Homo sapiens: one gene and its partners. The protein of the gene in region 3 purifies or fractionates together with the protein of the main gene of each other region. This does not show direct contact. Each region holds a gene or a part of one and is shown on either strand. Other genes may lie near its edges. The genes, in order: PCDHA4, LIMD1 and MAP3K6.

Region 1 (11,086 bases), on a different chromosome or scaffold from region 3:
AGGATTATAAATCATGCTACTATAAAGACACATGCACATGTATGTTTATTGCGACACTATTCACAATAGCAAAGACTTGGAACCAACCCAAATGTCCATCAATGATAGACCGGATTAAGAAAATGTGACACATATACACCATGGAAGACTATGCAGCCGTAAAAAAGGGTGAGTTCATGTCCTTTGTAGAGACATGGATGAAGCTGGAAACCGTCATTCTGAGCAAACTATCACAAGCACAGAAAACCAAACACTGCATGTTCTCACTCATAGGTGGGAATTGAACAACGAGAGCACTTGGACACAGGGTGGGGAACATCACACACTGGGGCCTGTTGAGGTGTGGGGGACTGGGGGAGGGATAGCATTAGGAGAAATACCTAATGTAAATGATGAGTTGATGGGTGCAGCAAACGAACATGGCACACATGTATACCTATGTAACAAACCTGCACGTTGTGCACATGTATCCTAGAACTTAAAGTATAATAAAAATAATAAGAAGAAATAAAAATAAATCTTGACCCCTACCTCACAACAATGATAAAAATATGTATATTCCAAATGGATTGTAGATGTAATGTAAACAATGAAATAAAAGATACCACAGAAAATTATCTTTGTGAAATAGGATCAGAAGCAAAAATTGATAAATTGAGTTTAATCAAAATTATGACTTTCTATTCACCAAAAGACAAAAAAGAATTAAAAACTAGCCATGAGGTTGAAAACTACTAAAAAAAGGAGTTATGTTCAGAATACAAGATTTGTTTAAGTAATAAGAAAAACAAGATAAGGAAATAAATAAAGTTCTATGGAAGCAAAAAGAAGAGAAAAAAGAAAAGAAAAACAACAGACTAGAGAAATAGGAGATTTGAGCAGCTATTGCACAAAATAAGGTATAAAAATTGCCAAAATAAAATAGAAAGGTACTCAACTTCATTTAAATATAAAATAATTTCAAAATGAGATTACAAAAGTCACCCAGTAAAATGGCTAACATGAAAATAACCTGACAAATGTAGAGATGATGTGGCCCAGCAGAAAGCCTTATGCACTACTAGGAATGTAAACAGGTAAAAACATCTTGGAAAATTGGTTGGTGTTAGCTACAAAAGACAAAGATACACACATATTCTGTGACCCACAAACACAACTCTTAGGCAAAAACCTGAGAGAAATCTGTGTACATGGGCATCAAAGAAATGTACAATATATTTATGATGGCATTATTTGAAATAGACATTGAGGCACAATGCAAATTCCTGAACAGTAGAATAAATAAGGTATAGTATATTTATGAAATAGTACTAGAAACAGAAATAAATAAACTACAACTACATATAACAACATGGATAATTTCATAAACAATGAGTGATAAATACAAATAACACACAAATGCACAGACAATACATGTTGTGCAAGTCCAATTAGATAACGTTCCCAAAACAGGCCCCGAACAAACAGTTATAAAAGGCAAATGTGCGGTTACACTGGAGGAAAAATAAGGGAAGTGATTTGGCAGGTGCATGCGAGGGGCTTCAGCGATGGAGGCAACGGAGCTTTTCACTTTCATACAATTTATGGAGCTTTATTATTTCAGCCTGTGCACATTTGTTTATATGTAATAGGTTAAATAATAGTAAAATGTTTTCTAAAATGTTGATTATTACCAAAAACAAAGAGGGTGAATATAGTGAAAATTTACTAGAAATTACAGTTCTGTTAATATGCATTGAATAATGCAGCATAAAATGAAGGAAGGCAATATATATTGCTCTGATGTCCTATAATTCCAAAAGACTTTAGTTAAAATGGATATGTAAAAAGAGGTAAAATTTTAACCCAGGGAAATTTGACTCTTAGAAATAAATTTACGAAGAAGTTGATAGAGAAAAACAATACGAAAATTAAACAAAAGGATGTTATACACTAACCTTTGCAAAGGATTCCTCAGTTGTCTGCAGCTGATCTTCTCTGTCCCTAGAGTCAGGTAAACTGGGGCTGAAGGCCATGAGGTCGGTCTTGGGTGGGCCCTCACCAGAGCACACCCTCGGCCTCCTCTGCTGCGAGTATGACCAGCTCCCCACCGCACTGGAGCACACCAGCGTGGGCTTGCCCGGAGCGCACGCGCCCTCGGTGGGCAGCGCAGAGCACCGCAGCGCGGTGTACAGCAGCAGCGTGAGCACCAAAAGGCTGGACACCGCGCAGATGGCAATGATCAGGTATACGTTGACATCCACCAGCGCAGCATCGGGACCCACAGCGCCCACCAACGCCCGTGAGGAGGCCTTTGGCGCCTGTCCACTCTCCACAAGTGACACCAGCACAGTGGCCGTGGCCGTCAGCGCGGGCTCGCCGTGGTCCTTCACCAGTACCAGTAGGCGGTGGCGCGGAGCGTCCGTTTCGTCCAGGGCACGCGTTGTGCTGATCTCGCCAGTGTACAGCCCCACGCGGAACGGGATGCGCGCGCCACCAGTCCCCGGCTGCAGCTCGTACGAAAGCCACGCGTTGTAGCCCGAGTCAGCATCCACCGCGCGCACCTTTGCCACCACGTGGCCCACACCCACCGACCATGGCACCAGCTCGCTCACTGCGCCACCAGTGCCACCCGCCCGAGGCGCTAGCAGTGCTGGCGCGTTGTCGTTTTCGTCCAGCACGAACACCTGCAGCGTCACGTTGCTGCCCAGAGGTGGCACGCCGGCATCGCGAGCGGTCACCTGAAACTGCAGCAGCTCTAGCTCCTCGTGGTCCAGCGGCTGCAGCGCGTACACCTTGCCGCTCTCCGCATGCACCGAAACGTAGCTCGACAGCGCGCGCTCCCCTACCCGCCGCTCTACCAGCGAGTAGGACACCAGCGCGTTCTCCTGCGCGTCCGCGTCCCACGCAGACACAGTGAAGATGTGGCAGCCCGGCGGGTTGTTCTCCTTCACGAACACTGTGTACTCGGGCTGCGCGAACGCCGGAGCGTTGTCGTTCACATCAGCCACCTCCACAGAAACACTGGCCGTGGCCCACAGCGAAGGCGAGCCCCCGTCTCGCGCGGTCACCACCAGCTCATAGGCTGACACGCTCTCGCGGTCCAGGGCACTGTCCAGCACCAACGAGTAGTAATTCTTGAAGGTGGACACCAGCTTGAAGGGGACGTGGGACGTCAAGGAGCAGGTGACCAGCCCATTGACACCCATGTCTTTGTCGGACACGCTGATCAGGGCGATGACTGTACCCAGTGGAGCGTCCTCTCTAATTGGAAGTGATAAAGACTTGAATTCCAAATCTGGGACATTATCGTTGTTGTCTTCTACTTCCACAATAACTCTACAATGGCCAGAAAGTGGGAGCTGTCCCTTATCAATGCCCTCTACAATAATTTCATAGGATTTGCTTTCTTCAAAGTCAATATATCCCTTTACAATAATTTGTCCAGTAATTGGATCTATGTGAAACTTGGATTTCACATTTGGCGAAATATCATTTGAGAATGAATAAACAATGTCCCCATTCAATCCTTCGTCTAAATCTGAGGCGTTAAGTTTAATTACCAATGTTCCATTAGGAACATTTTCTAGTAATCTCACCTTATAAATGGTTCTGTCAAAAGCTGGGGCATTGTCATTGGCATCCAGTACTGTGATGAGTAACTGAACGGTGCCAGTCAACTCGGGTTTGCCTCCATCAGTGGCTGTGAGCACTAAAAAAATCTCCGGAGCTTCTTCTCTGTCTAAAGATTTCCGTAATATAAGCCCAAGACCTTTTACCAGCTCGTCATCAGGTGGTTTTTCCAGAGAAAAGTATTCATTTGGGCTCAGTCTGTAAGTGAGCAGGGCGTTCTCCCCGATATCTGCATCCGAGGCGCCCTCTAGTGGAAACCGAGAGTCAAGCGGCCTGGATTCCGCGATGGACAGGTTCTTTTGTGTTGCTGGGAACACCGGCGGGTTATCGTTAATGTCCCTCACCTCCACGTCCACATGGAAAACCTGCAGCGGCCTGTCTACGATCACCTCCAGGTGGATGCTGCACTCCGCGCTCCGCCGGCACAGCTCCTCCCGGTCGATCCGAGAATTCACAAACAAAATGCCATTCTGCAGATTTACCTCCAGAAGGCCTCCGCGGCCCTTGGACGCCACCCGGAACAGGCGCGGCACCAGCTCCGCCAGCTCCAGTCCCAGGTCCTGCGCGATGCGGCCCACGAAGGTGCCGTGTTTGGCCTCCTCGGAGACCGAGTAGTGGAGCTGACCGTTCCCTGCCTCCCAGGCTGCGAGGAGAAGAAGTAAGAGCAGCAGACGCCGGGATTCCTGGCCGCTTCCCCAGGAAAACTCCATCTTTAGTGCACAGTATTTTGTTCTGATTAAATATCGTTTCTCAAAGTCAAGGGAAATCTTTTAATCGGTCAGTCAAGTGCAGCTGCATCCTCCATATTTCAGACTCCAAAGAGTGTATATGGTTCCTTCCAGTAAGAATAGAAGGAATTTTCCCTTCTTCCTCCTTCTCTCATGTATTTTGTGGTAAAGAGCGACATCATGTGGCTCCAAACCGTAAGTAGCAATTGTGGAAACCCCCACACACTCTACTGTAAACTACTTGGTTTTATTTATTATTTCAGTCGTTTCGGAGAATAGGAATACATTTTGTACTACTGTGGTACACATTGTACCACTGATTGATTGAGTGTGGTCCTTAGTTTCGCCATAGGGGCAACTTTTACTTCAGTAGAAATAATTTTTTCAACACAGGTTTTAAGTATTACAGAGACCTAACTATACACTTTGTAAACATGTAACTGTAAACTGTTGATTAGAAAAATTCATTACAGATTCCTGTGTTCCCAAGAATTCCAGGGTTTTTTTTTATTAATGATAACACCCTCTTCACCCTAGTATTTCTGGTGTTGTTGACTTGAGGGGACTGGTCTCTAGGGAACTTCTGGTGCCAAGAACAAGCTATTGACAGGGAAATTTGCAGATGTTTTATAAAAGGATCAAAGACCATCAGCATTTAATTAGATGTCTTCCTTGAGTCATGTCAGGGCTGAAAGTGCAAGGAAGCAGGAAGTTATAGCAAATAGCTTGCATGGAAAAGCATTCCAAATAATTTTATTCATTGGAACTCATTTGCTCCCATGAGAAACGCTGGTATTCTCATTTTGACTCTTACAGTTTATAAGTACTTGCTTGTTCTCCAGTATGTAATGTGCCTAAGCTTCTATTTTCTCCTATAGTGCTTATATATTTTAGCCAAACTGAATATTTCCTGCTTCCAATAGCTTTTTTTAATAAACAAGCATGTTCATTTTGTCCTGTCTATAAGTAATCCACATCATTTCTAAACTCTTCTAAAGCCAATTTACCCCATTTTATAACCACTTAAAACTTCCCTGACCCATGAAGAATGTCATGATCAAACCAATTGAACAGGTATTTTTTCTTCTTTTACAAACTGCAGCACCAGGGTGGAATCGCGTGGGCCATTTATTACATTAATTTATCTCTTATAAGCATTTGAGTATGTGTGTCCTTTTTTGGAATATATATTTTAAAGGGAATAGTTGTATCTTAATTGTTTAATAGCTCAGAGGGACTTACCTAATATTTCCTAAATATTTACCCTGCAGAAAATGTTTGCTTCCTTCCATTGCCTAATAAAATGCATTAATTTAAGGTGATCGCATATCTAGTTGGGAAAATGTGGTGTTTCAATAGCCTCTATGATTTTCTAAAGATACAAAAAAAGTCTCTAGACATTTCCCCAATTAAGATGTATTTCAAGTTCAATGTTGAAAACTTGGGTTTTAGCTTAATTTTTATTCTAATTCTTGGTAATCATGATCTTTGAATCATCCTGGGTATTAATGGGGAATGAAGACTTCCCAATAAATAAACCACAATACATTTTCTTACATAAAGAAATTTAATATATAAAGACATAATGGTAGCCATTTAAAAACTTTCCTTGCCTCCTATATCCATAAAGTTATTTTCATCCTGTTTGTCTAAACAAAAAATCAATCTAGTGAAAATAGCTTTACGCTCCCTCTCTATTGAAGAACTACACTCACACAAACACACACACACAAAAACCAAAACAACAACAAAAAACCCACCAAATTTCTGAATCAAACAGAAACCAGAGTACTTTCACTATGTGGGGACCCAAACTATATTTTTACAAAATGATCATTGACATCAAGCACATTGGAAAAAAGGAGGAAGAATTCCATTTTCACCCATTTCATTTGTAATATTTTCATTTACCAGGTATTTTAATGTACAGATGGGGAATGCAGCAGAATAGAAAACAATGTTTATTTGGTAGCTATTCAATATTTATTTGGCATAGCATCAGTACATCTGTGAAGTGAAAATTCCAAAGTCTTCAAAATGTCTTTGCCAAGAGTCTTGTTAGACAATAGTTTCAAGAGGCAAGCTGGATTTGAAGATTGAAGTTCCATATCTGGGAAGACAAGTACTTTGGCTGACTCTATTATATTCAAGAAGCTGATAACAGAACTAAATTTTTAAAATACTGACCTGAGATGGACACACTATGGCTACTACTTCATGGACAAGGGAGCAACAAAGGATAGTGCCAAAAAAGGAAATAAAGAAAATGGAAGTGAGGGGAAGGAGAGGAGTCAAGAAAAATATCTATTTTACGTGTTAGACCTCCCACACTGTCAATGAGTATTAACCAGGTTTCAGTTGGTTACTATTTCTCTCCAGTGGTAGGGAAACTTAAATGGGAGTCCAACTAATTGCTAGAGGAGATAACCAAATATGTAGGGGTAGTGATTAGAAAAAAGTCTACCTTCAATTTCATTTGGTTCTGGTTATTTGGAGTTTTCTACTTATTGCATGGCACACATTAATAGGCAGGATGCTATTCAGAGAAGTTAACCAGTAATAACATTATAACATTGGCTTATCAAACTTATTTCATATTAGCATCCTTAGTATGGTATGCAAAAGACACTAATGAATAAAAAGTTTTGCTAGTAGGGATAGTTTTAAAATTAGATACCATAATTATTTTCAAGATATTGTTCAGATTGAAAATTATTTTTAACAAGATTTAAAACATTCTTTTAAAATGAATATATAAATATACTATACAACTATTAAATTTTCACTTCATATTGATATTTTAGTTATTAGTAATAAATTTTAACATATAATACAGTAGTATTATTAAAGTAGTATTAAATAAAGTAGTGATAAACTAAAGATGAACAAAGATGCAATTCTAAATGCAATTGTTATTCTCGATTTTTTTCCCAACTGGGAAATCAAGAAACAATAAACGGTATTGCCAAATTAGAGCACAAGGCCTAAAATGAATCATATTCAAGTAAAAAATAAGGATTGAGACTCCAAACAAGTGAATAAGAGAATAAAAGAGGTTCCATAAAAGACAACAGGTGTAATGATCTAATTTTTGAAACTGAAGGTGGAAAAGCATAATCAATAGGGAGTTATAAGCATTAGGTGAACTCATAAAATGAGCAAGTAACATTTGTACTAACAGGTAGTAGGAAGTCCAAATGAAAAGTGGCAAAAGATATTGAAGAAGCATTGTATAGGGATAAGTATAAAACAAGTCGAAGTCAGATTCTCTAAATAATGCAATTCATCTAAGAAAAAATATTTGTCTTATACCCAGGCATTTAGCAATAAAATAATTCTACTACTGCACCTAATAACAAAACAAAATTACAAGTGTGGATATCATAACTTACTGCTGATTTGGTTCAAAAATTAGCAACAAAAATCTTACCGTTTTAACCACAAAACCACAAAACTGGAAAAGTCTAATTATGAATCACATAATTCATACTTAACTATTAATGTATTTCCAGAGGAGTGGAAACATTGAGGAATGAAAAACAAAGACATTTTGGAAAGAATAAATAAAAATTACTCACTTTGGCTGAGAGATCAACGTCCACATCCTGTTTCTCCTCTCTATCCCGGCTAATTGGACAAGGAGGAAGGCTAGGGCTAAAAGCCATGAGGTCGGTCTTGGGCAACCCCTCTCCAGAGCACACCCTCTGCTGCCTCTGCTGCGAGTATGACCAGCTCCCCACCGCGCTGGAGCACACCAGCGTGGGCTTGCCCGGCCCACAGTCGCCTTCGGTTGGCGGCGCGGAGCACCGCAGAGCAGTATATAGCAGCAGTGTGAGCACCAACAGACTGGACACCGCGCAGATGGCGACGATCAAGTACACGTTGACATCCACCAGTGCAGCTTCCGGGCCCGTGGCGCCAGCGGACGCCTGGGACGAGGCCTTGGGTGCCTGGCCACTCTCCACCAGCGACACCAGCACAGTGGCCGTGGCGGTCAATGAGGGTTCACCGTGGTCCTTCACCAGCACCAGTAGGCGATGGCGCGGGGCGTCCACCTCGTCCAGGGCACGGGTCGTGCTGATCTCTCCCGTGTACAGCCCCACGCGAAACGGGATGCGCGCACCGCCGGTCCCAGGCTGCAGCTCATACGAAAGCCACGCGTTGTAGCCTGAGTCTGCATCCACTGCGCGCACCTTCGCTACCACGTGGCCCGCACCCACTGACCGCGGCACCAGCTCGCTCACTGCGCCACCGATGCCACCCACCCGAGGCATCAGCAGTGCCGGCGCGTTGTCGTTCTCGTCCAGCACGAACACCTGCAGCGTCACGTTGCTGCCCAGAGGCGGCACGCCCGCATCGCGCGCACTCACCTGGAACTGCAGCAGCTCTAGCTCCTCGTGGTCCAGCGGCTGCAGCGCGTACACCTTGCCGCTCTCCGCGTGTACCGACACGTAGCTCGACAGCGCGCGCTCCCCCACCCGCCGTTCCACCAGCGAGTAGGACACCAGGGCGTTCTCCTGCGCGTCCGCGTCCCGCGCAGACACCGTGAAGATGTGGCAGCCCGGCGGGTTGTTCTCCTTCACGAACACCGTGTACTCGGACTGCGAGAATGCCGGCGCATTGTCGTTCACGTCGGCCACCTCCACGGACACGCTGGCCGTGGCCCACAGTGAAGGCGAGCCCCCGTCCCGAGCAGTCACCACCAGCTCATAGGCCGACACGCTCTCGCGGTCCAGAGGGCTGTCCAGCACCAATGAGTAGTAATTCTTGAAGGTGGACACCAGCTTGAAGGGGACGTGGGGCGTCAGCGAGCAGGTGACCTGTCCATTGACTCCTGAGTCGCGGTCGGACACGCTGATCAGAGCGATGACTGTGCTAAGTGGAGAGTCTTCTAATACAGGTAAAGATAGTGATTGAATAACTAACTCAGGTACATTATCATTGATGTCCACAATTTCGAGTAGAACTGTGCAGTGATCTGACATTGGGGGATTTCCTTTATCCGTGGCTTCTACCTGGATTTCATATGACTTACTTTCCTCGAAATCTATGTTACCCTTTACACTGATTTGTCCATTGACTGGATCTAAATGGAATTTTGACAGAATATCTGCTGACATGTCCGTATTGAAAGAATACGCGATATCCTTATTTACTCCTTCATCCAAATCGGTGGCGTTAACGGTCACCACTAGGGTACCATTTGGTGCATTTTCGAGTAATCTGACTTTATAGATCGTCCTCTCAAACGCTGGGGCGTTGTCGTTTACATCTAAAACAGTGATCTTTAGTTGAGTCGTGCCAGTGAGCTCTGGTTTCCCACCATCAATTGCTGTTATTAGTAAATAATGCTTAGGAGTGTCCTCTCGATTTAAATTTTTTTTCAACACGAGTCCAAGGGATTTAATTTCCTCATCATTTCTTTTAACGTCCAAGGTAAAATATTCAGTGGAATCAAGACTGTAAGTCAACAACGAATTTGTTCCGATATCTGCATCTGATGCGCCCTCTAGCGAAAACCGAGAGCCAGGCTGTCGGGATTCGGAAATAAACAGATTCTTTACAGCCATTGGAAAAACTGGCGCGTTGTCATTAATGTCCTTCACTTCCACCTCCACATGGAAAACCTGCAGCGGCCTGTCCACGATCACCTCCAGGTGGATGCTGCACTCCGCGCTCCGCCCGCACAGTTCCTCGCGGTCTATCCGAGAATTCACAAACAAAATGCCATTCTGCAGATTTACCTCCAGAAGGTCCCCGTGTCTTTTGGACGCCACCCGGAACAGGCGCGGCACCAGCTCCGCCAGCTCCAGCCCCAGGTCCTGCGCGATGCGGCCCACGAAGGTGCCATGCTTGGCCTCCTCAGAGACGGAGTAGTGGAGCTGGCCGCTCCCCACCTCCGAGGCTGCGAGGAGCAGAAGAGAAAGCAGCAGGCACTGGGCTCCAGGATCTTCTCGCCAGGAGAACAACATTGCAAGTATTTTCCAAATATTAGATTGCCTTTACATTGATCCAAAGTTTAAAAATAATTCGAGTTCCTTATCTTCATTTCTTAAACTCCTCGGTGTTAAATTTTAGAGAGGATGAAGCAAAGCAGTATCTGAATACGTAATGCACGCTGTTATTTCTTTTGTGGAGAAAGACCTTGTGGTGGACAGCGACATCATGTGGCTAAACGTGTAAGTATTAAATATGTAAACGTATCTTCTTTTCCTTGTATGTCGTTTGAACTTTCCCAAAATTTCTAGTTTCAATTGTAATATCCTTCGGTCACTCCTCAAAGTCCTTATATTTTATCTAAATATTTCCTTAGAACTTTTATACTAATTCACTATCAATTGTGCTAATTCATGACATACACTAAAATATTGTGATTCCTGTTTTAACAGTGGACATCTATTGGAAATATTTCCCATGTGACAGCCACTTTTCTATTTGTCTTAATGGAATTATCCCGTTAAATTATCACAATCCTCTGAAATAAGTTTTAATATTATTCGCTTTTTATAAACACATAGAGGTTAAGTAAAACGATATTATCTCTTGGTACGATGGGATTTCAATCTGATTCAAGACAACTTACCATTAACCTCTTTACCACCCAAGTTACATTTTATAGAAAAATCAGATCCTTTCAGATTTATGATCATCAAAACATTGAGATGTTGAAGTATTTAAAAGTGTGTGTGTGCTGTATATATTAAAACATACATATATCTACTTTTATGTTATTACAGCAACTGTTA
Region 2 (10,436 bases), on a different chromosome or scaffold from region 3:
CATTTCTGTTTTCAATCCAGGGAAAATTGCAAACCCCCACTTTCAGGGATTCCTGAAGAAAAGGCACCCAATAACTTAGGAATATTCTTTCATTTCCTCTCAAAAAACGTTCGTTGGAGTCTGTGGTAGGCTGACTAATGCTCCTCCTGTTACCGGTGGAGGGTGTCCAGGTTCTTGGCGTCTTGATAAAGAAATGGACAAAACGCACAAAGCAAGTAAAGAATGAAGCAACAAAAGAGATTTATTGAAAAACGAAAGTACGCTCCACAGGGTGGGAGCAGCCCAAGCAGCTCAAGAACCCGGTTACAGAATTTTCTGGGATTTAAATACCCTCTAGAGGTTTCCCATTGGTTACTTGGTGTACACCCTATGTAAATGAAGCAGAGGTCCATGATCAGTTTGATTGGTTGTGGGAGGGGACCAATCAGAGGCTGAAGCAAAGTTACAAAGTTACACCACCCTATACAAACATCTGACTGGTTGTGTAAAACGCCCAATCAGAGGCTGAAGTTACAAAGTTATACTCCTAGGCAAATGAAGACTTGGCCTAAGACCAGTCTGATTGGTTGTGGGAGGGGATCAATTAGCGATACTTTCAATTTTTCACCTGCCATGCAGAAAAGGGGCTGGGGGTGGGGAGGTTGCAAAGGGAGTAGCCTCTGGTCCTTTTGTTACTTGAGCGTGGAAAGTTGGGGTTTTCCTTTTGACTTAGTTCTAGGAAGTCAGCCTGAATTGGCCTTAGGAAGCCAATTCCATGCCTCCAGACCCTATCTCCTGCTTCCCTCCCCTTCAGAGATGTCCCTGTCCTCCTCACCAGAACCTGTGAATATCTTATTCTGCAAGGTAAAAGAGGCTTTGCAGATGTTATTAAGAATCACAAAATGGGAGATTATTCTAGATTATCTGGATGGGCGTAATCCCAAGTGTCCTTACAAGGAGGCAGGGAGGGTCAGAGAGGAGGTGTGACAATAGAAGCAGCCAGAATGATGCAGCCACAAGCCAAGGAAAATGGGCAGCCTCTAGAAGCGGAAAAGGGGCAAGGAATGGGCAGCACCCTATAGCACCTCTGGAAGCAATTCGCTTCTGCCGACAACCTTTGGCTCGTGTCCAGGATGACAGAATGATATATTTGTGTTGTTTTAAGCCACTGAGGTTGTGGTAATTTGTTAAGAGTGGCCATAGGAAACCAATACAGACTTCAACAGAGCAGCAGTGAGCTTCTCCTCACAGCCTCCTGTGGCTTTTTGACTATGTAGCTTTGATGAAGAAGTATACTGATGGACAATTTACTGCCTCCCATCAACCAGAGTAGTAGAGTGGTCAAGACAGCACCCTCTGGATGAGATGGCCTGGGATGGAGTACTTACTGTTTATTTCACCCTTTTGTGTCTCAGTTGTCTTGTCTATCAAATGAGGGATGATAAAGAACATACAGTCCTTGGAATAACATCTGCTATGTGATGAGCACACGGGAAATGCCAGCTATTACAGCTGCTACTGCTTCATCACAGCACTTAGAACCAGACCAGATACCCCACTGCCCAGTCCCACATGGCCCAATGCCCAAGGCTGACTCTTAGGACTATGCCATCTCCTCCCAATCCCTGGTGCCAGGATGCCTTGCTGGTAGCTGGAAAGTGGCCATGGCGGGAATATTTACATCATAGGTATCAGCAAACACTCCATATCAAGGCTTTTTAATTTTTTGCCCCAGAGGGCTGGTTTGCCAGCACACCACAACTCCAGACCGCCTTTTACCCTGATTGCATCTTCACTCCTTATACCATCAAGGTCTTAAGCAAATAGCAGCCCATGTTGGCAAAATCAGACTAGCCATTCTCTCATCACTTAAAAAGAAAAAAAAAACTTTTATTCTGGTGTAAGGTGCTATGACTATGAGTATCCTCACTCCCAGCTTTCCCGTGTCCTTGGCACGTCAGACCTGGTAGCCACAAGGACTACACTGGAGTCTAGAACAAACTCTTTCCCCACCCCAAGGATTCTAACCACACACTTGGCCCCAACACTCTACAAGTCCTGTCTTCCTGCATGTGGCTGTCTCAAACCTGAAGGATCACTCGCCTTGAGGATTCTTTGGTCATAACCTCAGAAGAGAAAAAACAGTAACATTCACAAGAGAGACAAAGTGACCTTACAAGTCACTGCATCAGGACCTTACAAGTCTCAATCTTAAAGGTCCAGTAAAAGAAACTGCTGATTCTTGGGATATGATTCTCCAAGGCCTCTCACATTTTTATACATCTGGTAAGAATAGACACCAATTGCCAGGTTCCAGACTTATATTTTCAAGGATGTTTATCTAGTGAACAGTCTTGGATGACAGAGATAGTGTCTGTCTCTGGAGCAAAAGTCAGGCAGGCTTACTGCCCATTATCAAATACCAGGGTCCCCTAAGCATGGGGGTTCCTCTTGTAATGCAGCCCACTGCGTGTGCAGGTCTCACCTGGCCCTCTTCTTGGGGCCTGGGGCTCAGGGAACCAGTGTAAATGCTGATAATCTGGCCACTGCTATTGCTATAATAAACTGTCCTTTGTCTCTGACCTATGAGTCTCATAACTTCTGCCAGGATCCATGAACCCATGTGGTGTGCTCACTTTATTAGCCTGCAAGTAGGGTAAAATCTCATACCCTTCACAGGTTTGCTACCTATGTGGTACTTTTAAGAATCCAGAGCTGTAAAAGAAGACAAAGTCCAGGTAGCAAAAAACAGTTTGCTGACTCCACACACAGAAAAGACCCAGGAAATATAATGTTCAAGGAGCACTTTAATAGTCAACAAATTGATGCAGTTTTGTCACAATACTTTGCATAATTTTATAGTAACAGTAAAATTCTGAATCACTTTATAGTAAAAGAAAAGACACAGAGGAAAATAATTTCCCTGTACAATGAAATTTTCATACACTATATGAAGATTTCCCACATCTGTCAAGTTTTGGCTCAGAATAAAAGATAGCTAATATATTTCACTCTTTTTTCTGTTACTTTTTTTTTTTTTTTTGAGACAGTGTTTCGCTCTGTTGCCCAGGTCGGAGTGCAATGGCACCATCTCGGCTCACTGCAACCTCTGCCTCCCAGGTTCAAGCGATTCTCCTGCCTCAACCTCTCAGGTAGCTGGGATTACAGGCGTGCGCCACCAAACCCAGCTAATTTTGTATTTTTAGTAGAGACAGTGTTTCACCATGTTGGTCAGGCTGGTCTCTAACTCCTGACCTTAAGTGATCCACCCGCCTCAGCCTCTCAAAGTGCTGGGATTACAGGCGTGAGCCACGGCGCCTGGGATTACAGGCATGAGCCACTGTGCCTGGCCTTTTCTATTACCTTTAAAAGTTACTTCACATAGTAAAGAAATTAGGACTGATTCTTGGCATAAAGGAGGGTACAAAAAAAAATTGTGCCAGGTACAGTGGCTAATGGCCATAATCCCAACACTTTGGGAGGCGGAAGTGGGCAGATCACTTGAGCCCAGGAGTTCCAGACCATCCTGGGCAACATGGTGAAACTCGTCTCTATTAAAAATACAAAAATTAGCCAGGCGTAGCCAGTCATACACGCCTGTGGTCCCGGCTACTCGGGAGGCTGAGGTGGGAGGATCACTTGAGCCCAGTAGGTGGAGGCTGCAGTGAGCTGAGATCGCGCCACTGCACTCCAGCCTGGGCAACAGAGTGAGGCCCTGTCTCAAAAAAAAAAAGAAAAGAAAAGAAAATTTGGTTTCCTGGCAGATAGAGTTTTAACAAGCGCATCAAGCAGTAATAATTTGTGGTCTTGTGCTCAATTCTCACACATGATCTTTGCAAGCGTCCCAGCAGCCATCACAGCTCTACTTTCACATGCATGGGACACAGCACAGAGCAGCAGCCTTGAAAGGACTGCAAAGAGGTGTGAATTCCAAACATTCTCTTAAGTCCTAACATTTCTGTTCTTCATTTTGTGTGACAGAAGCCCATGGAAACAAGGCGATGACGGCGCTTGAGGGTGACCAGACCTCCTCAATCATTCCATCAGCCACCCAGGACTCAACAGCAGAACCTCAGAGGACTCAGCTGAAAGAGGTTTTCACTCGAGCACTAACCACAGAGAAATGGGAAGTGCCATCCTGCTGTCATACGCAGCCGATGGCTGGGTAGGACTAAATGCCCTTCTGTGGTGAGATGAACCAAGACGGCAGATGGGGGAATAACATCAGTGAGAGAGAGATTACGAATGGATCCTTGTATTGCAGATCAAACTGGGTTGTCTCTTCTCAAACCACCCAGGCAGTTTCTGAATGTCCCAAGATAGGGGTAGGAGAAAAGAAAAAAAAGACAAAACAGGAGACGGTGGGTAAGAAAACCTAAAAGGCACAATGAGGCAAAGGCCTAAGATGGAGGCTGGCTTTGGGATCTGAAATCCGGCCACAATCCTCCTTGTTTTACCTCAAGTCCAAGAATTGTCAAAAAGAAAACCCAGAAGGGCTATTCATTCTAAATTTTAAAATCTTTTCTTCCTGGCCTACCAAGTCCTTGTGTTTTCTTTCTAGGCGCCCATAAATACAACCCCATTACAGTTCTATTTGGCTAATAATTTACAGAACATTTAAAATACCGGGTAGGTGAACATCTCTTCATGGCTTTTGTGTAAGGGCCTGAAGCGAAGAGAAAAACAACTGATTGGAGATTCCTATCTGGCGCCTTCTCCAGGGAAACTGACAACCAGAGAAATCTGTTGCTAGGATTTCTAGGACATCTGGAAATTCCCTTTTTGTTCTTTCTCAACAATATAAAATGGTATATTCGCAAACCTATCTGAATCACCTCAATCTAGGCCACTTTGAAAATTTCATTTAAAAATGTAATCACAGATTTTTAAACTAATTACCCAATTTGCAAACAAATCCCAGCTACTTCTGGTCTTGAACATGGAGCAAAGGTGTGTCAGTAAGGCCAACATTCTTAGGTTGACAGAGACAGGTTAACACATTGGCTGGCTTCATTTACCCCCCTGCCACGCCCCACACTGAGCTGGATGATTTGATGGGAAGAGAGGGTCCCCACCTCAGGGTTCACTTCCCCAGCCCCAGCGTTCATGGGTTTTCAGGAGGCTCAGCCTGTGAAAAAGAACCAATGATGATGCACACCCTGGCTGAAGTGACATCTGGCCAAAGGATTCCAACAGAATGAATTCCATCAACATGGAAAAGATAATCCATGGCACCAATTCTGTGCTGCTTACAGGCAATGGTTACCAAATGAGTCAAAACATGGCCTAGAAGTGGAGCCGGGCCCAATGAAAAGCCTGAGTTCACACGTGCTAGGGGCTCCACTGACCGGCCTCTGCAGCCCAGCACCCAGTCCTCTTGCTCTGGGTGCAAGGTGAGGAGGCAGAGTGCACACACCGGCTCCTGTGTCCCCGGCCTGGCTGGCAATGGTAAAATGGGCTGCCTTTCTTTTGCAGCTTCTTCTAATCGAAATACCAAAGGGTACTGACCTCTGGCCTCAGGGATGTGACTTGCAGTGCAAATTTTACCTCTTCAGTGCAGAGAGTGGTCTTGAAATCTTGCCAGTGTGTGGCCCTCCCTCAGCTCCTGCCACCCTGGGGAGCCAGGATGCTGAAATGCATAAGGCAAAAGCACTGAATCGGATCTATTCCCCACTGACCTTTAGTTACGATCACTCTGCCCTGACCAGCTGGAGTTGGGCCTGTGTGAAGCCAGTGATTTCCAACACACTGAAGAAGGTATCTGAGTCCAGTGTGAAAGCCAAATTCCTCCTGAATCTGTGATTTGGTGAAGCTCTGTGAGGTATTTTTTGTGTGTGGAAGACTGAAAGTGAAGGGAAACAACTAAAAAAATTAAACAGACAAAAGCAGTGTACCTTATCCTGGTTTCTTCAAACATAATGCCTGTGCCAAGAATTGGGCAGGAGAGAAACCAACGAAATGAATATAATAACTTATCCTGAGGCGCTCCCTCCCACGCTGGCTTAGAGATCTCGCACACACAAAAACTCTCCTTGTTTATAAGAAGCTGTCTCTCAGTATGCGGGCAGCTCTTCCCAAAAGCCCGTCATTAAATAAGCTAAAAACAGGTGCAAGCGATGTACCTGCATGGGTTCCTGAGACTTGCCTTGCAGAAGCGGCCTTCCAAGTCACCAACTCTTGAGAACTCCAGAGAAAAACAGCGCAAACACGTGGGCAAAAAAAAAAATCCTGGTGCCTGCACCAAGTTCTTCTCCCAAAGTATGTTTTACTCACATAGGGCAAATTTCTGTCGCGGACTCAGCTGCCTTTAGGAGAGTAAGGATTTGAAGGGGTACAGAGAATGCTGTCAGTGTCTAAGGAGGAAACCCTGCCTCACCTATTTCAAATCTTGACTCTGGTTTTCTAAGCAAATTTATCTTAGGATACAAAGCACACATTAGAGCTTCCTTCTTGCCTTAATGCAATTAAATTTGCAGCCATTCTGCAGAAGAACTGAAGCTCTCAGGTGAAAAGAAGCCTTAAATCATGCCATGATATATGTCGGGGGAGGGAACATTTGGGTATAGGTATTTTCCTGAAGGAAGAGAAAGGGTTGAATGTATTGGCAGCTGAGCTGTCCCTTCAAGGGGATATTGTGAAACAAGCTCAATAAAAACCTCTCCCTCTGAAGCATGAAATGTTCCCAGAGGGGACAGGAGGATTCCTTTGGTGCTATGATGCAACCTCAGGTCATGTGCTCGCACATGCTGGAGCATTTTCCTGAGTAACCTGAGGAAAATGTGGCAACAGAGAAAAGCACTTGGAAAATACACGCAGGAGGCAGGTAGTGTTCACCTCCCTGGTTAAAGGAAAGGCACCCCCCACATGCTCACAGGAACTCTCCCTCCTGCCCCTCCTCTTCCCCTACCCCACTTCCACCCCAGGGGCCACCGGAAGCAGCAGCAGCAACCCCGGCTCCTCATCCCCTGCCGTGATGTCTGCAAGTGGCTCTGGCTAGAAGTGGTGCTGGTGAAGGGCTGTAGATGAGGGTCTCTTCTCCAGCCTCTTCACGTGGCAGGAGTGACAGAACAGGTGGTCCTCCAGCGGATAACAGCGGTGGCCATCTTCATCATTGAGCTCCAGACCACAGTCCTGTGGGGAGGCAGACATGTCCAGGGGAAGCAAAACAAAACAGACTGCAAGACTGACCTGAAGGCCACAGTCCCCAAAATCAGCAGAGGGTGCTGTGTGTTTCTGTATAGGCAGGAAATGCCAGTGCAGAAACACAGCTCCTGCCCCGTGGAGGCCTGTCCAACACAGGAGACACTGCCACAAGGCACTTGCTGTGAACCACTTAAAATGTGCTGTCAGTGTAAATGCAGATTCCGAAGACTTAGGACAAAAAGAGGATGTAAAAATATCTCATGGGAAAAAGGAATGAGATCATGTCCTTTGCAGGGACATGGATGAAGCTGGAAGCCATCATTCTCAGCAAACTAACAAAGGAACAGAAAACTAAACACCACATGTTCTCACTCATAAGTGGGAGTTGAACAATGAGAACACATGGACACAGGGAGGGGAACAACACACACCAGGGCCTGTTGGGAGGTGGGGGTGAGGGGAGGGAACTTAGAGGATGGGACAATAGGTGCAGCAAACCACCCTGGCACACGTACAACATATATCTATGTAATAAATCTTCACACGTATCCCTTTTTTTTTTTTAGAAGAAATAAAATAAATTGTGGAGTTACAAAAAAAATCTCATGGGTAACTTTTTTATATTGATTACATGTTCAAAAGATAACATTTGGATTTTTTTTTCTTTTTTGAGACAGTCTCCCTCTGTTTTCTAGGCTGGAGTGCAGTGGTGCGATCTCAGCTCACTGCAACATCCACCTCCCCCGTTCAAGGAATTCTCCTGTCTCAGCCTCCCAAGTAGCTGGGATTATGCACGCGCCAACACATCTGGCTAATTTTTGTATTTTTAGTAGAGACAGGGTTTCACCATGTTGGCCAGGCTGGTCTTGAACTCCTGACCTCAAGTGATCTGCCCTCCCAAAGTGCTGGGATTACAGGCATGAGCCACCACGCCCAGCAGGATTTTTTACTTTTTTAAGACAGGGTCTTGCTGTGTCACCCAGAGTAGAGTGCAGTGACACGATCCTAGCTTCCTAAGTAGCTGAGACTATAGGCACAGCATGCCTGGCTAATTTTTGTATTTTTAGTAGAGACAGGGTCTCACTGTGTTGTCCATGCTGTTCTCAAACTCCTGGGCTCATGTGATCCCCCTGCCTCGGCCTTCCAAAGTGCTAAGATTACAGGCATGGGCCCATGCCTGGCTGGATATTTTGAACCGAATAAAATAATTAATCTCACCGGTTTCTTTTAACGTTTTAATTGTGACTACCAGAAAACTTAAAATGATACATGACTTTAATTTGTGGCTCTCATAATTCTTTAACGTTTTAATTGTGACTACCAGAAAACTTAAAATGATACATGACTTTAATTTGTGGCTCTCATAGTTCTTTCTTTTTTTGAGACGGAGTCTTGCTCTGTTGCCCAGGCTGGAGTGCAGTAGCATGATCTCAGGTCACTGCAACCTCCACTTCCCAGGTTCAAGCAATTCTCCTGTCTCAGCTTCCCGAGTAGCTGGGACTACAGGCGTGTGCCACCACGCCCACTAATCTTTGTATTTTTAGTAGAGATGGGTTTTTGCCATGTTGGCCAGGCTGGTCTCGAACTCCTGACCTCAAGTAATCTGCCGGCCTTGGCCTCCCAAAGTGCTGAGATTACAGGCGTGAGCTATCGCGCCCGGCCCCTTATATTTCTTTTGGATAGCACTGGTCTAGAAAATGTGGAGAGGCCTGTTGAGCAAATGTCCTCACCTTTTTCTCCTGCAGTGACCTGGGGCACCTGGGGTCCCAGCAGCAATGATTCCCACCCATTTCTTCAGTGTTGGCAGTGGGACAAGTCTATATGAGGGACACCCCCATTCTCTACCCACAGGGTCACCAAATGAATCTAATCTCCTTCCATGGGTGAATTCACTTAATTGTGGCTGAAATTCCATGGTCACCCTTCACAAGGGTTGGTGAGGGGCAACCTCTAGCTTTCCTGACAGTCATCAGGTACTAGTGCTCCTTCATCTTGGGTTGGGACAAAGGGCAGGAAGGGGCAGGCGGACCCCACCCGCCTTCACACCACCAGCTGACATGCCTGTTTCCAAGAGGGGCTTCATGATTTCCAGGGCTCAGCTGAGAAAGGAGCTTCAGGCAGATAGAACAGCCTGCAAGCTGGAGGGGAGGGAGTCCCTTCCCCAAATCGCACACCTGCCTGACAATGTGGCCCGCAGATAGGACCTGAAACCCATGCTCTCCACGACCCTCCTAGCTCTGCAGCTTCAGGGAGAGCAGCTCCAACAGTTGCAGGACTTGATAGTTCTGAATATGCAGAAGAAAGACCTTTATACCTTGAGCATTTCCATCTTCTCCTACCTCCCCCAAGAACCAGCCTTCATTCCATTTCCTACAGAAGCTCTAGAGGGCTGACCCTTGCCAGAATCTTGTTGACTGCCTCTTGCCCCAGTCAACGCAGGATGCTTTTCTCTTGGATGTCTACAATGGGCTTTGGGGGCTGGGTGGGGAGGGGTCTACCTCGCAGTGGTAACACTCCACGTGGTAGTCTCTGTCCATGGACACGACACGGATGGTCTCATCTGAGCCCTGGGACCAGAGAAAAGCAAGAACACATAGGAGAGGCCTGTTAGGGGGGCTGTCGGGCTTGATGTACCGTGGGGTGGGGAGGGAAGAGGGTTTTGGGGGTAACAAGTAGGTGGCCTTGGGAGGAGAAGGTAAATCAGGAGTACTTACTGGAAGAAGAATACATTTAAGCTGATGAGAGGGGAAGTAGGAGGGATAGGAGTCCTTCCTTCTAGAATGTCAGAGTTAACACTGAAAGAAAGACCTACATGGACACTTATTTTAAAAAATGAAGAAAAGACAAGCCTTTCTCCTCATCTGCTAATCTAAGAATTAGTATCAAGTAAGGGAGTTTGACCTGGTTATGGGGACAAATCAGCACAAGAAGGGTACTGGGTTGGGGAAGCCAGTCAACAAGGAAGGGTGAAGACACGACTTATCTCAAAGGTGAAGTGGGGTTTTTTTTGGTTTTTTTTTTTTGGAGACAAGGTCTTGCTGTCACCTGCTGGAATGCAGTAGCACCATCATAGCTCGCTGCAGCCTCAAACTCTTGGGCTCAAGCAGCTAGGACTACAGGCACATGCCACCACACTTGGCCAATTTTTAACAATTTTTTGTAGAGATGAGGTCTTGCTATGTTGCCCAGGCTGTTCTTAAACTCCAGGCCTCAAGCAATTTTCCTGCCTGGGCCTCCTAAAAGGGGTGGGATTACAGGCGTGAGCCACTGCACCAGGCCAGAGTTGAGATTTTTAAAAGGATACCTTAAAAGCT
Region 3 (10,436 bases):
ACCGCACCCGGCCTAAAAACATTTTTTTTTCATTTATTTATTTATTTTTTTTGAGACAAAGTCTCGCTCTGTTGCCCAGGCTGGAGTGCAGTGGCGCAATCTCGGCTCACTGCAAGCTCCGCCTCGCAGGTTCACACCATTCTCCTGCCTCAGCCTCCCGAGTAGCTGGGACTACAGGTGCCCGCCAGCACACCCAGCTAATTTTTTTGTATTTTTAGTAGAGACAGGGTTTCAGCATGTTAGCCAGGATAGTCTTGATCTCCTGACCTCGTGATCTGCCCACCTTGGCCTCCCAAAGTGCTGGGATTACAGGCATGAGCCACCATGCCCGGCCAACAAAAAAAATTTTTTAAAAAAGACCTAGGGGGCTCTTCCCAGGATACCCCTCCCACCATACACCTCCAAAATTGCCAGGACAAAGGTTCAAAAGTGTTCTGTTTAATACGCTTTGTCTGGTAGTGCTTGGGTGCCTGTGGTTGGTTTCTCTCACTGGAACCAGTCCTGGGCCCCACTCGCCTGGCTTCCTCCAGTCGCCCCAGGTCCTGGGGCTGGTGTGTCAGAAGCTGCCTTTGTCCTCTCCATTCATCCATCCTTGGGCCTGTCTGGCCTATGATGCCCTCATTCAGCTCTCAGGGTCCAGAGGTGACTGGTGTGGATCCTGCTCGCTGTGCCAAGATGGCCCTCCAGATGCGGCATACCATCCCTCCCCTGGGGGTAATGGACTCAGTGTGGCTCAGCCAGAAGGTGGCCCTGGACTCTATCTTGCACACACTGTCTGCCCAGTGCCCCCTCTGTCCCTAGGGGACCCAGGTGCCCCTTTGGTTTCCAGGAAGGAACCTAGGCAGGCCTGCAGTTGGCCAGGATGAGGCCATATGCATGGTTCACACTTGGGGGGCCCAGGATGTACCTGATGCGGGTGTAGATGAGGTCATCTCGAGTGGCATAGGTGAGCAGAGTGTGGAGGGTGAAGCTATGGTTCAACAGCTGGATGTGGTCAAAGACCCGCAGAAAGAGGGAAATAAGAAATTACAGAAAGATGTGTCGAGACCCAGGTACTAGCTCTGCTCTGTTGCCAAAATAATGAGGCAGATCACACCCTTCTGGGCCTCAGTTTTCTCATCCATACAATGGGACGAGAATACTAAGTGTTCTTCTGGTAGTGAGATTCTCTGCATCAGAGGGCACAGTAGAAGAGCAGGAAGATGGACAGAGATGGAGGCTTTGGCTGGTGAGGTCAGGGATAGCCAAGCACTCCCCGACTCACCATTTGGATGGTGCCTGAATCCACATTCAGTTCCTGTAGCCACTGCACCAGGCCCTGGTCCGTTGAAAGAGCAGCTGTCAAGAAGCAGTCAGGTGATGAGCCCAAGAGTGCCTCCTGCTAGAAGCTGCCTCGAACCCACCAATAGTGTTCTCCAGCCAAGGCCCACTCAGGTGATGAGCCCAAGTCAGGTGATGAGCCCAAGGGTGCCTTGTGCTAGAAGCTGCCTCGAACCCACCAATAATGTTCTCCCGCCAAGGCCCGCTCAGGTGATGAGCCCAAGTCAGGTGATGAGCCCAAGGGTGCCTTGTGCTAGAAGCTGCCTTGAACCCACCAATAATGTTCTCCAGCCAAGGCCCACTCACTTGGAGGCTCTGGGGCCAGGACATAGGTCCGGGCTTCCTCATTCAGCCGCTGTAGAGCCCGCTGCACCAGGGCCTGGTACTCCCGTTCCTTCCCCGCCAGGATTTCGCGCAGCCTGTGGGGCGCAGAAGAGTAGAATGGAGCGGTGAGTGGTGAGTGGGTTGAAGCCCGGCAGAGGCTATGAGCGATTCCAAGGGGCTTTACCGATCAGTCTCTGCCCTCAAGAGGCTCAGCTGCACCATCAGAGGAGCGGGGCCCTGCTCGGGCTCCACCGGAAGCGGGCTCTGCTGGCCTGGGCTCTGCTGGGAGTCCCCTTCATTACTCAGCTCCTCTGACCTCGGTGAGACCGCCTCCTTCTCCACCTCTGCAGCCCAGTGCGGTGAACTCAGGCAAGGCTACAACGCCCGTTTGGGAACCCCAGACCCCAAAGTGCGGGGGTAGGGTGCCCGGCTCTGGGCAGGCCCCAGGCGGTGCCGGTATGGGAGATGTCCATTTAGTCACGCCCCCACCGGCGCCTGCCTGCCCCTGTCCCGCCTGGCCCCCACCGGCCCCATTCGATGTTCACCGCGCCCAGCAAGCACCACACCCTCGCTGGCAGGAGGCCCGTGGCATTCCCCTCCTACCCGGTCCTAGCACACCCAGGGCTGCCCGCACAGCACGGCTGAGCAGTGAGTCCAGAACGAACATCCAGTGTGGACGGATCTGGCGCTTGCGGAGGATCTGCTTCACCTGCAGGGGGAGGGAGGCGCCGCTGAGACAGCTGAGCCTCAACTAGAGGCAGGGCTTGAGTTGGAAAGGCCTAGAAAGTCTTCGGCGGGAGGCGAGTGGGGTGGGCGGGCTTGAGGTCCAGGGAAGGCCTGGGAAGCTAGGACTGGGCAGACGGTTTTTTGCTGCAGGCCTGATCTTCACAGAGGAGACAGGGAATCTGGGAACGTCAAGTCCTGGCACCTCACCAGGCACGGGGAACTCACTACCTGTTGTTGGGCAGCTCTAACTACCAGAAGGCGCCCTCACCGCATCCGGGAAGGCAAACAGCGGTCTGTGCAGAAGCGCAGGCCCAAGGCCCTGGGCCCTCAGCCGTCCTTGCAGCGCCCGCAGCTCCTGGGCGAGCTGCCGGCGGTTGGGAGTGTGGATGTGTGCCCCGAGGCAGCGCAGCAGCTCTTCCACATGGTTTCTGCCCAGACGGGCCCCCTGAGAAGGAAGAGAGGGGTTGTCAGCGAGTGCTCCAGCCAAAAGAGACGCTGCCGCGGAGGTAGGGGGCGGGGACATCAACAGGTGTCCTGACCCTTTGCGACCACCAGGGGGCGCTAGAGTGGGCCGCCCACCTGCTCTTGCTTCTGCTCCTGGTGCAGATTCTCCGCCAGCGCTGGCAGCTCCTGCTCCAATACTGCGGCCAGCATGGCCCGACGCTTGCTCTCCTGGTGCAGCAGGCTCAGCCCCGAACTCTCCTCCGGAGACGCAGGCTCCTCGGCCGCAGGCTCCTCGGGCACCCTGGGCACAAGGGCGAGCTGCTGATTGAGGACGGGCAGCAACCGGCCAGTCACCTCTGTTGCCGGGTTTGAATCCTGGCTCTCCTACTTTTATGCCTACCTCACAGGCATGAACATAGATAAACCCCGCACTGAGAGGACACAACAAGTCCAAGTTAGAGTTGCCAGAACAGGGCATGGGGAGGCACCAAATGCCACATTCACAAGTGGTCAAGGTGCCCAGGTCCCCAGGGAGGGCTTTTGTAGGAGAGGAGAAAAAGGCAAAACCAGGCAAAAGGAACCCATCCCAGGAGCCTTGGTCTCACCGGAGCTGGCTGGTGCCCCCATAACTGAGGCAGCGCTTCGGGGGGCTGGGTGGGTGCTGAGAGGGTGCCTGAGGGCACGGGAATGTCTGAGACTGGGTGGTTGAGTTGGCTGAAGGAGTGGGACTGGCAGAAGGGGCATCTGAGGGAGGGACAGAGCCATCAGCTGGGCTCTCCTCCACCCTCACAGCTCCACAACTCCTCTGCCCTCCACTGTGCCCATCCCGCCACCCGCAAGCACCTGAGGGCCGTGGAGCATGTCGTGGGGAGCTGGGGCTGCGGCTCCTTTTCCCAGGCTGCAGGAAGGGGTCCCCCAGCAGTGTCTGGGCGCTGGCTCGGAGGCGGGGGTCTGGCTCAAAAGTTCGGAGGAGAAAGGCTTGGGCCTCGGCCGACAGAGAGCTGGGCATTGGCGGATGGACCTTGTACATACCCACCTGTGGGGGGAGGGTGAACAAGGGTGACATTCAGAGGTGTCCAAGGCCCAGGCTGGCCCTATGCCACTTCCATGGGCCAGGCCCAAAGAGGTCTCACCTGAAACATGGCAGCCTGTGGGCTCCCGAGCTCGTGGAAGGGGGGGCGACCTGTGGCCATCTCAATGACAGTGCAGCCCAGTGACCAGATGTCAGCTGCTTTCCCATACCCGCGTGGGCCCTGGTCAATGATTTCTGGGGCCATATACTGCAGAGTTCCTAGGACAGAAACAGGAGCACCAATGCCCATCTAGGCTTCATCATGGGGTTGGAGCAGGGAGGGGAATGCCGTCATCCTCAGGCCGACTGCACCCATACTGAACCTATCATCCAAAATATACCTCAACACCTATCCTGGTCATCAAACATCTATCCTGAGTTCCATCACCACCCTGGGCTCCATCGCCTGCCAAGGCTTCCGTCATTCATCCTGGGCTCCACCACATTCACAGACTCCATCACCCACAGTAGTGCTCCAGCACACATCCTGGATTGCCTCGTCCCCCTGAACTCCATCACCTGCTTTTTCCTCCAACTCCCACCTTGGCCTGCATCAACACTCCTCAAGTGCTAAAGTCAATTTCATCACTTCTCCAAGCTCCAGTTCCAGATGCCACCACCTCAGCCCTGGCCCAATCACTCACCCTGGGTTTCATTCCCCATTAGGACTCTAACTCCATGCCTAGGAGAAACCCCCTTCCCTGGAAAGTTCCAAGAGATCTTCTGCCCCAGGTCAGCATCCCCACTCACCACCCCCACACCTTGTTACCTGTGAAGGTCTCAGTGCAAGGTGTGATGCCTGCCAGCCGCTTGGAGGTGCCGAAGTCAGAAATCTTGAGCAGCCCACTGAAGGTGTTGATCAGCACATTGTCCCCCTGATTGACAGCCATTAGTGGACACTGGTCTGGGCCCCTGCCAGCAGAAGTAGACCCTCTTTCTGGGATCCCATCTCCTGGAGATCCCAGCCTGGTCCTGCCTCTGTCAACACTCTCCCCTTGCCATCCCACTTATATGCCCCTCTGGGAGCTGACAATTGGTTTGGCTTCAGAGCTGAACCTTTCCCCTCCTTCTCTAAGGAGCCTCCCTGATGAATTCCCTACCCTTTGCAACAGGTCTGCTCACTTAATCTAAACTGCCAGCCTGCGTCTGGGACCATGTTTCCTTCCCCGCCACCCTCAGCAGATGAGGGCGGGCCAGCCCCAGGGCTTACTTTTATGTCCCTGTGCACGATGTGGTTGTCGTGCAAGTAGCCAAGTCCCTGCAGGATCTGGCGGGTGTAGAAACTGATGGTGCTCTCGTTGTCCTTCAGGGGTCCCCACACCGACCGCAGCAAGGAGGACAGGCTGCCTGGGTGGGGACAGTCCAAGTTCATTCTTCCCACCCACTGGCTCCAGCCCACATCTCTCTGCTCAAGGCCCAGACACACCCATGTTGTAGCCCAACTCCATCACCCAGCGCCACTCCTCAGCTAATTCTAGGCTACACCACCCACACGCACTAGGGTGCATTTCCCCCTAGGGCTCTCTACCCCTGCCTGCCTCGGTCCCATGCTTCACACCTCGGTTTCATTCCCATCCCACACAGGGCAGGTACCTCCAGGCACTTCCTCCATGAAGATCTTAAGGTAGCCGCCCTGGCTAGCTGAGCCCAGATAGCGCACTATGTTCTTGTGGCGCAGGCGTCTGTGAAGAGCGATCTCTTCATGCAGGGGCTGAGAGAACCTGAGGGGAGGTAAGGGAGAGAGGAAAGGGACCGAGGTGGGCAGAGAAGCCCCGCCCATCCCACGCCAGCCTGGCCCCGCCCCAAGGACCCGCCCCGCCCACAAGCCCTCTCCGACCTTCCCCACCCTTACTACCCTGCCCACAGGACCCTCCAGACCTCAATCCCGCCCGCACGGTCCTGGCTGTTCCGCCCACGGGCCCAGTCCACAGGGCTCGAACTCTCAGGTCCTACGAGCCCGCCCACTAGGCCCCGCCCACAGGAGCCGCTCCGCTCGTGGCCCGGCTCACTCGGCCCTCGCGAGCCCTCAGCCCCACCCGCGCTGCCACGCACCGCACCTGCTGTCCCGCTCCGGGATCTCCTTGATGGCGATGCGCACCCTCGTGTGGCGATCGCGGCCCGCGTACACCACCCCATACGTGCCCTTGCCCAGCACCAGCCGCTCGCCCGTCTCCGTGTACTCATAATCAAACTGCCGGGCGCGGGGTGAGATGGGAGTTCAGCAGGGCCCGCGGCCCCTCGCCCTCCGCGAGCTCCCAGTCCCGCGTCCTCACCTCCAACATCTCCCCCGCGCCCTCCGCCTCCTCCGCGGGCGCCGTGGAATCCGGGTTCGTCACCCAGGCCTGGATCAGGCCGCAGAACCTGAAGGTGGGGGAGGTCAGACCCGCGGGAGGGGCATCTTGGTCCCCACCTAAGCCGGAGCATCCAACGGACGTCGTCCCTTTCTTTCCCCCACTCCCCCCCGGGCATCCTGGCCCTCAGAGTACCCCGACCATGAAAGGCTGCGCACCACTGGCAGTGCCCTACGCTGGGGAAGCACAGCTGGACGTCCTGAGCCGGGGGGAGTGCATAGAGGAAGCAGCAGCGCTCGTCGCGCTTTGAGGCGCTGGGAAGGGATGAAGAACCCAGTAAGCGTCAGGCTGGGTGGCAGCGACCCTCACCTCCCGTCTTTCCAGTCACCCCAGGTCCCGCCTATCACCTGACTCCGCATATGGAGGCGACTGGGAAGGTCCAGCTGGAGGGAATGTCCTGCAAGAAGAAATGGGGTGTGATGGGGAGTGCTGGTGACAGGAGAGGGGTCTGAGGATGGGAGAAAGGCTCCACAGAAAAGGTCCTAGCAAAGGTGAGTGAGGGGCCTCAGCAGCGACTTCACCTGGGTCTCAGGCTCCAGCAGGCTCAGGGTCACTGTGCTTACTGGGTCAGTACCCCGAACCTCGAGCTTTGCAGGCAGCAGCACCTTGTTCATCTCCAGGACCAGCACCTGCAGGCAGTTGGGGAGTGGGGTCAGTCAGAAGGGGCTTACCCCTTTCCCGGGTCCACCACCCCTACAGGCCTCACCAAGCACTGGTCGCCCTGGGCACAGGCTGTCTTGAATGGTTGGCAGGACTGTAGCAAGAAGTGGAGCCAGAAGTGGGCACGGCGTGGTGGCCCTCCAGGGGGCTCTGGCGTGGGCCTGAAGTGCTGGTAGAGCAGGAAGGTCTCCATCACGGACACCAGGTACCTGCATGCAAAGCCACATCCTCAGTTCAGCCCAGGCACCAACCAGCACTGCCAGGGAGAGGAAACTGGCCTGGATATAGCTAGAACGTTGGCATGGGGTGCCACGGGCACTGGTCTAAAAGCAGCCAGGTCATTGGCTCAGGGTTCAGTCTAGCATGCCAATGGACATAGGTGCAGGAGCTGACAGCCCAGGTCAGGCCAAGAATGCAGAGGGGGCCACCTACCATATGGGGGCATTGAGCTTATACAGCTGCTCTGCAGCCAGCACCACCTGGGTGGGGTCATTGGCGAGGATCTGGGCTCCCAGGTAGAAACCCACATCCCAGTAATACTGCATCTTCTCCACGCAGCCTTTGCGGGCCAGCAGGCAGCCCAGCTTCATGCCTGGGGGAGAGAGGCATGGGCTCCAGTGAGTGTGGGTGCAGGGGTGAGTGAGGCCCACCATTTCTGTGGGCCCGAGTGTGGACATGAACATAGATATGAGTATGGCATTGAGTATGGCAAGATCTCGGGTGGGAACAGGAGCTCAGGCACAGGTATATGTGGAATTCAGGATGTAATGGACACGCAGATGTGAGTTTGGGAACATTTGTGGGTTTGAGGGCTCCTGAGGGCCCAGAACAGGTATGAGGACCCAGGTGTGGGTATGGGCAGGACAGTCCAAAATGGATGAGCTCATCCTAGCTCTTGCCCAGTGTGCTCTCTCCCTGCCCTCTTCCCAGGCCCCTCGGAACCCCTGTGGGTGACGAGACAAGAGCCAGGATCTGTGCTCACCTATTAGCCGGAGCTCTTTGGAATCCTCAAAGTGCTGCCCGGCAGCAATGAGGAGCACAGCTGCATTGATGCCTGAGTGAAGGCTGGGCTCTACGTCAAAAGCCTTGCGATACCTGGGGTGGGGGTAGGGGGCACAGGGCTGGACTGATGCCCACAGCACCACCCCTCATCTCACAGCTTAGCCCACCGGCCACTCACTGTGCTCTTTACCAGTGATAGGCCTGCTCCCGGTGCCCAGCATCCTGGAAACCCGAGCTGAAGAACATGTCCTTGTAGATACGGCCACACATGCAGTACAGATCGGGCGCCACAGAGCCCTCAAGCTGTACCAGCGGCAGCAGCACAGACAGGGCCTTCGCCCGGTCCCCAGGCCTGTTCCTCCTAGGGAAAAGATGGGCTCAGGCCCTCCCTGATGGCCCTGGCCTACTCTGTCCAGGGACCTCTAGACACTGAACCAGCAGGGACCCTTCCAGGGGCCTGACAATAATGACCTCAAAATGATAATGACCCTGGCCAGCACTGACCTCTCTAGTGACCTCAGATGGAAGTGATTCCTAGATGCGATGACTCTTAGGAGCAGTGATCTTGGACAGCGGTGACCATACCACAGGCAGCACCACCTCCCCCACCCCGACCCAGGCAGCAGTAACTCAGAACAACAGGGACCTATTGACATCAGTGACCCCGGTCAGCAAATTCCCCGAACAGCAGTGATCCCAGACAGCAATGGCTTTGCACGCAGAGACCTAGGTTTCGGAAACCTTTATGTGGCTATGACCTAACCCTTGCTCTGCCACTCACCGGTTGAGGGCAAAAGTGTAGTGGAAGCAGACATTATGCTGCTCGGCCACATCACAGGTGGGCAAGGCCTGCAGCGTCTCCACCAGCTCAATGATGGCCGAGTAGTCCTGCATCAGGGAACGGCAAGCACTGGCATCATGGGCCTCCAGGCCCCAAGGAACCTTGAGCCAGGGTCCTGTCCCACTCCTGACATCCCACCCAGCCACCATCTTCTGCACGCCTCCCTCAGGCCCAGCGGACACACCTCACAGGGAGAACCTACTGTATGCCCCATGCTGGGCGTTCCCAACCCCACAACTGCCCCAGGAGGCAGCGACATGCTCATCCTCTCTAACAAATAAGGAGGCCAACACTCAGAGACATTGGATAATTTGCCCAAAGCCACCAGTGAGCAAGTGGCCCAGCCAGGAACTGAACTTGGGTTTGTCTGACCTCAAATGCCAGCTGCCCTACTGCCTCTCTGAACACCACGCACCTGCACATCGCGGTAGGAGAGCAGCAAGTTCATGATGATGTCGGGGCTCAGCAGCTCCACGCTGTCCAGTCTCCGCTGCAGGCGAGCCAGCTCCTGCCGCAGCTGTGGCCCACTGAACCGCTCCCGCGCCTGCCGGATGTCCCGCCGAATGGTCTCCCGGAAATAGCCACTGATGCCCAGGGTAGGGGAGGCAGGGAGAGAGAATGGTGGGGCCTGTACCTCAGCCCCAGCCCACCATACCCTCACCAGCCCCCTCCTGGAGCACCCTCCCTGGGGGCCTTCATTACCAAGAGTCTGTGGGTGTGGCCTCCAGCAGGCGGGCAAGCCGGCCCACCAGGGGAGTGAGCAGGGCCTCGGTCCCCACTCCAGCCTGTACCAGCCCATCAGCCAGGCCCCGCAGAAGGCCTGCATCACCACACAGCACCCGACCAGTGGCCGTCACCACATAGGGGATCAGTGTGTAGCTGCCAACGCAATCCTGGTGGGAGGGAGGCAGGAATCAGTGAGGTCAGAGGTCAGCACAGGGCTAGACAAGGGGAGTGAGAGCATCAAAGGTCAGCATCAGTGGGAATTGGAATCGCAGGAAAGGGGCACCCGTCATGAGAGGAGGCAACAGGAAACAGAGGAATACTTGGGATGTCAGTGGGGGGTTAGGTGACTGAGGAGGCCAGGGGGATTAGTGGAGGTCAGAGGTCATAGCGGAAGTCAAAGGGCACTTTTGAGTGAGAGGTGGATTCTGCTCACCGAGTTCTTCTGGAAAACATCCTCCTGCAGGAGGCAGACAGTCAGATACTGGTGTTCTGTGTAGGCCTTACCCCAGCCCTGTGCCTGCCTCCACCAGCCCCAGGCCACCTACCCGCAGGGCCTGCAGGTCAGGGAGGTCGGCCTGGGAGCAGAGGAGCACATTGTTGGTCATGCTGAAGCTCTCACGCACACCAAGGTGGTAGAACAGGGAGGGCTGTACCAGCGAGCTGCTCACCTCCAGCACCACCACATCTGCAGGCACAGAGGGGGTGGCGCTGATCCCTGAAGCCCAGCTTGATGGGGAAGGAGCCGGGGTCCATCCTGGCTTGACCTGCCTTGCTGTGGGACTCCAGTAGGGTCTGGTTCTGCTTTGGGCTTCAGTCGGCCCTTTTTAGGGTTCCCCTGGCACTTTCACAGAACTGATCTCTGTAGTGTTGCAGGAGAGGAGTTGGGCTCACTGGGTTGGGACCCTCAGGCCACGGTTCAGAGCCTGTGAGCACCTGGCATGGGGGAAGGGAGGCTGTGGACCAGTTGAGT

The links.
Region 1: the proteins of MAP3K6 (region 3) and PCDHA4 purify together in Homo sapiens (affinity purification with mass spectrometry; 2 studies listed by BioGRID and IntAct, with this or other methods). This does not show direct contact.
Region 2: the proteins of MAP3K6 (region 3) and LIMD1 purify together in Homo sapiens (affinity purification with mass spectrometry; 2 studies listed by BioGRID and IntAct, with this or other methods). This does not show direct contact.

Annotation. Positions count from the first base shown.
Region 1 is NC_000005.10:140,800,424-140,811,509, reverse strand, and holds the start of PCDHA4 (protocadherin alpha-4 isoform 1 precursor), read right to left. Parts: upstream 4,443-11,086; 5' UTR 4,323-4,442; coding exon 1,938-4,322; coding exon of another isoform or gene 1,926-1,937; exon of another isoform or gene 1-1,925. Other genes in the region: PCDHA3 (protocadherin alpha-3 isoform 1 precursor), read right to left, coding at 7,919-10,312. UniProt on the Homo sapiens protein: Calcium-dependent cell-adhesion protein involved in cells self-recognition and non-self discrimination. Thereby, it is involved in the establishment and maintenance of specific neuronal connections in the brain.
Region 2 is NC_000003.12:45,673,596-45,684,031, reverse strand, and holds part of LIMD1 (LIM domain-containing protein 1), read right to left. Parts: intron 9,690-10,436; coding exon 9,621-9,689; intron 7,111-9,620; coding exon 6,973-7,110; 3' UTR 1-6,972. UniProt on the Homo sapiens protein: Adapter or scaffold protein which participates in the assembly of numerous protein complexes and is involved in several cellular processes such as cell fate determination, cytoskeletal organization, repression of gene transcription, cell-cell adhesion, cell differentiation, proliferation and migration.
Region 3 is NC_000001.11:27,354,762-27,365,197, forward strand, and holds the end of MAP3K6 (mitogen-activated protein kinase kinase kinase 6), read right to left. Parts: intron 10,152-10,436; coding exon 10,012-10,151; intron 9,924-10,011; coding exon 9,900-9,923; intron 9,634-9,899; coding exon 9,443-9,633; intron 9,325-9,442; coding exon 9,156-9,324; intron 8,788-9,155; coding exon 8,681-8,787; intron 8,261-8,680; coding exon 8,090-8,260; intron 7,993-8,089; coding exon 7,880-7,992; intron 7,490-7,879; coding exon 7,330-7,489; intron 7,107-7,329; coding exon 6,944-7,106; intron 6,867-6,943; coding exon 6,759-6,866; intron 6,635-6,758; coding exon 6,585-6,634; intron 6,492-6,584; coding exon 6,396-6,491; intron 6,248-6,395; coding exon 6,160-6,247; intron 6,078-6,159; coding exon 5,944-6,077; intron 5,608-5,943; coding exon 5,480-5,607; intron 5,234-5,479; coding exon 5,097-5,233; intron 4,799-5,096; coding exon of another isoform or gene 4,762-4,798; coding exon 4,656-4,761; intron 4,106-4,655; coding exon 3,948-4,105; intron 3,851-3,947; coding exon 3,658-3,850; intron 3,559-3,657; and 20 more. UniProt on the Homo sapiens protein: Component of a protein kinase signal transduction cascade. Activates the JNK, but not ERK or p38 kinase pathways.